Linked DNA regions of Homo sapiens: region 2 is linked to region 1. The links come from fine-mapping of genetic effects on gene expression. Tissue or cell type: whole blood. Region 1 holds a variant in brackets; the other region holds the start of a gene. All regions are shown on one strand. Distances are from middle to middle.

Region 1 (2,907 bases):
GCCAGAATAATTTTTGACCAAATGTTTTGGCACTATGGCCTAGCCAAATTGACATGTAAAATTAACCATTTCAGTTCCTGTGGGTAATAGGTTTAAAACAAAATGAGTTCCTGCCCAATCCAAAATGAGGAATTGGCGTTGTGTACATGTACCCTAAAACTTAAAGTATAATAATAATAAAATTTTAAAAAAAAAGAAAGTCACTTCAAAAAAAACAAAAAACAAAATGAGGAATCGGAGCCTTACAGGCCCTTTTAGAGAAAGCCTAGTCCCTTCCTTTTCTGAAGAGTTTGCAGCAGTTAAATGGCTTTCCCAAGGGCATACTGTGCCTTGGCATTAGTCTAGAGGAGACTCCTGAAAGTTAGGGCTCTACTCTATGTGACTGTTCTCTTGTCCTACAAATTAGCAGAGTGACATGTGGGTACCCATCTCAGTTTCCTGTGCACTTTAATTGGACCAAATATCTTAGGATTGAATCACCTCTGGGCAGGGTCAGCATCATGGGTACATGTGCAGTCACCCAGGGCCTACGCTAAGAAGGACCTTGTACTTGGTTTAATGTCCTGCTGTTGCCATCTTGAAATTCTTAATATATTTTTTTAAACAAAGAGTTTGGACCTATATTGGAAAGTCATGGATGCAATACATGACTGATATTACACCCTTTTCAGGTTTGAGTCAGATCTAAATCATCTCCAATCTAACAACTAGGAGTGTTACTAAATTGCCTGCTGGCCTTTATTCTTTGCAGGCAGGAGAAAGGCTAGGTACCCCCTGCCTCATTGCACCAAAGTGGCCAGGCATCCAACTTGCTGTACTTGAGCCATGCAAGAAGTCACAGAATCATTGTACATGTTTTACAGAAAGGAGCCTAAAGACTAAGTCAACTTCCTAGAATATTAAAATCCAGATGAGTGACTTGCCTAGGGTTACTCAGTGAGAGGTTAAATGAGTTGATACATGTAAAGTGCCTGGCACACAGCGATATACAGAGTTGCTTATGAATAAGAGTACTGACCATCTGAGGCAGGAGGATCTCTTTAGCCCAGCTGTTCAAGACCAACCTGGGCAATATAGTGAGACCTCCTCTCTATGAAAAATTAAAAATTAGCCAGCCACGGTGGCTCGTGTCTGTGGTCCCAGATATTTAGAATGCTGAGATGGGAGGATCGATTGAGCCCAAGAGGTGGAGGCTGCAGTGAGCCATGATCCCTCCACTGGTCTCCAGCCTGGATGACAGAGCAAGACTCTGCTGACCAGACTTTTCAGCTTCAGGTTCTTAGCATCACACATGCTGGTTGTCTACTGATTACAAAAACTCCTTTGAAGGGCTGTCAAATTTAAAATTTTCACTTGTGTAATGAACATCCCTTAACCCTGAATGCGATTTTAATTTACAGTCTTGTATGTGGCCACTTGGTGCCCTTTTTTTTTTTTATGGCTAAACGTGTACGCAAATTCTTCTTTTGGATTCAGTAGGTTTTTCAAAGCTTTTTTTTTTTTTTCCTGGTACAACTGTTCCATATGAATAAACACTATCCTTTTCATTTTATGGAGAAAGCTGATAATAGGGTTAAATTATAGGGGGCCATTGTTTTGAACTAAGTTCCTGCACTAGGTCCCAACAGATCAGACTAAGAATCAAGAGTCACCCATGCTAAAGTTCCAAGTCACCAAACTAAAACTAAGTTGTATCTGACATTCTGAGAAGTCAGGAAAGAGAGACAACAGCCAATTTTCCAACCAGGCCATTTCAAAATGCAATCGTCATGACAATTAAGTTTCCTGTTTTAGTCCTTAACCTGGTGTAACCTAATGTTAACCAATCCGTTATTTCTCTGTTGTT[GTTT/T]CCCTGTCCCCGCCTCGCAATGAAAGTAATTTGAAGTGACCAATCCGCTTTTTGTTCTCTGCTTCTGCTTTCTTCAGCCCTTTTTCTGTCTATAAAGCCAACTTCCTCCGCTCGACTCTTTGGAACACTTATTCTATTTTACAGAATAAGGTGTTGCCCGATTCTATTTTTTGTTTGTTTCCTCAGAGACCCCGTTCTGAGTGTTGCCCGATAATGGAACCACAAAGTCAATCAAGATCGAGTTGTAAAAAATTACAACTAAATTTATTGTAATTTTTTTGCCTTTTGCCAATAGAAATCCCTTTTTCATTAAGTATTCCTCCCTAGAGTAAGCGACCACGATGACCCCAATTTCACAAGTAAGGATGAGGAAAGGTTCTGCCCACACCGCCGCCCAGCCTGGCAGACTAGGATTGCATCCTGCGGGTGCCACTGCGCATGCCTGCCGGGGAATGACGTCAATCCGAGCTCGTCCCGGCCTCACCAGCGCCATGCTGGGCTCGCGAGCCGCGGGGTTCGCGCGGGGCCTGCGGGCTGTGGCACTGGCGTGGCTGCCGGGCTGGCGGGGCCGCTCCTTCGCCCTGGCGCGTGCGGCAGGCGCGCCCCACGGTGGTGACTTGCAGCCCCCCGCCTGTCCCGAGCCGCGCGGGCGCCAGCTCAGTTTGTCCGCGGCGGCGGTGGTGGACTCTGCGCCCCGCCCCCTGCAGCCGTACTTGCGCCTCATGCGGTTGGACAAGCCCATTGGTGAGTGCGGGCGGGCGGGCAGCCCGGGAATTTGCAAGTAGCAGCCTCCGAGTCGGCTCCGCGGAGCTGTCCGCGGCGGCCGGCCGGGGCGTGATGGAAATGAGAACCTGAAAGCTTGGGCTTGGCTGCCGGGTGCCGTGCGCCCTGGGGCGAATCACCTCGGGACACTTTGAAATGAGAGCCTGAAAGCTTGAGCTTGGCTGCCGGCTGCCGTGCGCCCTGGGGCGAGTCACCTCAGGACACGCAGTCGGGACAGTCTCCTAAAGGACCCGCCAGTTTCACGTCTGTCTGCATCCTGAGCACCTGAAGCGGGC
Region 2 (2,907 bases), 49 kb before region 1:
TCTAACAAATTGAGGATGCTATGAGAGTGTGTCATGGAGAGCTGCCTGGAGATTGAGAGAAAGCTTCCTTGAGGGAAGTTACATTTCAGCTGAAACACACTGCCATCTGCTCGAGGTTTTGTAACTGCATTCACATCCCGATTCTGACACTTCACATCCCGATTCTGACACTTCACCCAGTTACTGTCTCAGAGCTTGGGTCCGCATGTGTAAAACAAGGACAGTATGCACTTGGCAGGGTTGTGAGAAGGGAAGAGAACACAAGTAAAGCACCTGTATCAGGCATACAGTAGGCACTAAGCGTGCGATGCTTGCTATGATTATACATCAGTGTAAGCATCAAGGAAAAGCTGAAGAAAAGTCTGACCAACAGCGAAAGATAAATGCGCAGAGGAGAAATTTGGCAAAGGCTCCAAATTCAGGGGCAGTCCGTACTCTACACTTTGTATGGGGGCTTCAGGTCCTGAGTTCCAGACATTGGAGCAACTAACCCTTTAAGATTGCTAAATATTGTCTTAATGAGAAGTTGATAAAGAATTTTGGGTGGTTGATCTCTTTCCAGCTGCAGTTTAGCGTATGCTGAGGCCAGATTTTTTCAAGCAAAAGTAAAATACCTGAGAAACTGCCTGGCCAGAGGACAATCAGATTTTGGCTGGCTCAAGTGACAAGCAAGTGTTTATAAGCTAGATGGGAGAGGAAGGGATGAATACTCCATTGGAGGTTTTACTCGAGGGTCAGAGGGATACCCGGCGCCATCAGAATGGGATCTGGGAGTCGGAAACGCTGGGTTCCCACGAGAGCGCGCAGAACACGTGCGTCAGGAAGCCTGGTCCGGGATGCCCAGCGCTGCTCCCCGGGCGCTCCTCCCCGGGCGCTCCTCCCCAGGCCTCCCGGGCGCTTGGATCCCGGCCATCTCCGCACCCTTCAAGTGGGTGTGGGTGATTTCGTAAGTGAACGTGACCGCCACCGAGGGGAAAGCGAGCAAGGAAGTAGGAGAGAGCCGGGCAGGCGGGGCGGGGTTGGATTGGGAGCAGTGGGAGGGATGCAGAAGAGGAGTGGGAGGGATGGAGGGCGCAGTGGGAGGGGTGAGGAGGCGTAACGGGGCGGAGGAAAGGAGAAAAGGGCGCTGGGGCTCGGCGGGAGGAAGTGCTAGAGCTCTCGACTCTCCGCTGCGCGGCAGCTGGCGGGGGGAGCAGCCAGGTGAGCCCAAGATGCTGCTGCGCTCGAAGCCTGCGCTGCCGCCGCCGCTGATGCTGCTGCTCCTGGGGCCGCTGGGTCCCCTCTCCCCTGGCGCCCTGCCCCGACCTGCGCAAGCACAGGACGTCGTGGACCTGGACTTCTTCACCCAGGAGCCGCTGCACCTGGTGAGCCCCTCGTTCCTGTCCGTCACCATTGACGCCAACCTGGCCACGGACCCGCGGTTCCTCATCCTCCTGGGGTAAGCGCCAGCCTCCTGGTCCTGTCCCCTTTCCTGTCCTCCTGACACCTATGTCTGCCCCGCCAGCCGCTCTCCTTCTTTTGCGCGGAAACAACTTCACACCGGAACCTCCCCGCCTGTCTCTCCCCACCCCACTTCCCGCCTCTCATTCTCCCTCTCCCTCCCTTACTCTCAGACCCCAAACTGCTTTTTGGGGGGTATCATTTAAAAAATAGATTTAGGGGTTACAAGTGCAGTTCTGTTCCATGGGTATATTGCATTGTGGTGGCATCTGGGCTCTTAGTGTAACTGTCACCCGAATGTTGTACATTGTATCTAATAGGTAATTTCTCATCCCTCATCCCTCTCCCACCCTCCCACCTTTTGGAGTCTCCAGTGTCTACTATTCCACTAAGTCCATGTGTACACATTGTTTAGCGCCCACTCTAAATGAGCCTTTTTGTTTCATTCATTCTGTAAGTGTTGAATAGGCACCACCTAAGGTCAGGTATAAGTGGAAATTTGAAAAAGAAACTGCCCACTTGCCCCAGTACTTCCCTAGCCAAGAGGAGGGAAACCAGGCAGGTGCACCTGAAGGCCTGTGAGTGCTTGATTTGCTGTGCAGTGTAGGACAAGTAAGATTGTGCATAGCCTTCTGTATTTAAGACTGTGTTAGGAAGATTTCTCTTTCTTTTCTTTTCTTTTTCTTTTTTCTTTTCTTTTTTTTTTTTTAGGCAGATGAAAAGGGCGTCACAGAACAGGAATAAAAATCTAAATATTCAATAAATGAGACCTAGGAGACTACTGCAGTGACTTACAAAGTCCTAATAAAAAGATGTCTCTCCAAAATGGGGCTGCAAAATGTGGTGCTGCCTTATCAGCTCTAAGTTTTTTCCTTACCTGAGAAAGAAGGAACCTGATGCAGGTTCAGGGCTCCTGCCCCATGAATGCAGGCTGACTCCAAGATGGGGAGCTACAGGGACAATCCCAGGTCTTCTAGGCCTCTTATTTAGGCCCTGGGAGCCTCCAGAGATGGCCACATCTTGACCAGCCCAGATAGAGGGAAAGATCACCATTATCTCACCTCTGTGTCAAATACCTAGATGCTGTCCTCCCTGAGCCCACACTATAGTTGCCAGCGCTAATTTAATGGGTAGTGTACTGGTTAAGAGATGGACAGACCATCCTGGCTTGACTCTCAGCTCTGGCAAAGATGAGTGACTTGGTTTTTCCATATCTCTTGGCCACACCAACCTTGATTTCTTCAGCTGTAGAATGGAATTTCTCAAGCTTGCCTCAAGGATTATTGCCCGAGGATTTGATGATATGGTAAGAGCTTCTCAGTGTTTGACCCATAGTAAGTGTTTGACGTTTCAAACGAATTGTTTCTTTCTAGGACATGGTGAGCATTTGGTAGCCATTCACCGGTTTTCTGTTTCTTTGGATCATAGTTAACCTCTCCTTTTCCTTCTGGCACTACAATTTTCTGG

The links. PIP is the estimated chance that this variant, and not a neighbour inherited with it, causes the effect.
Region 2: HPSE starts here. The variant in region 1 is fine-mapped to the expression of HPSE in whole blood (TOPMed, PIP 0.92).

The regions. Positions count from the first base shown.
Region 1 is chr4:83,284,198-83,287,104 of GRCh38, reverse strand. It overlaps COQ2 (coenzyme Q2, polyprenyltransferase), which reads left to right and starts at 2,307. Exons shown (of 7, transcript NM_001358921.2): 1 at 2,307-2,593. The coding sequence starts at 2,341. RefSeq lists enhancers at 2,175-2,469, 2,665-2,904 and a silencer at 2,275-2,604. The variant GTTT/T (reference allele first, on the strand shown) is at 1,847.
Region 2 is chr4:83,333,087-83,335,993 of GRCh38, reverse strand. It overlaps HPSE (heparanase), which reads left to right and starts at 1,146. Exons shown (of 12, transcript NM_001098540.3): 1 at 1,146-1,438. The coding sequence starts at 1,212.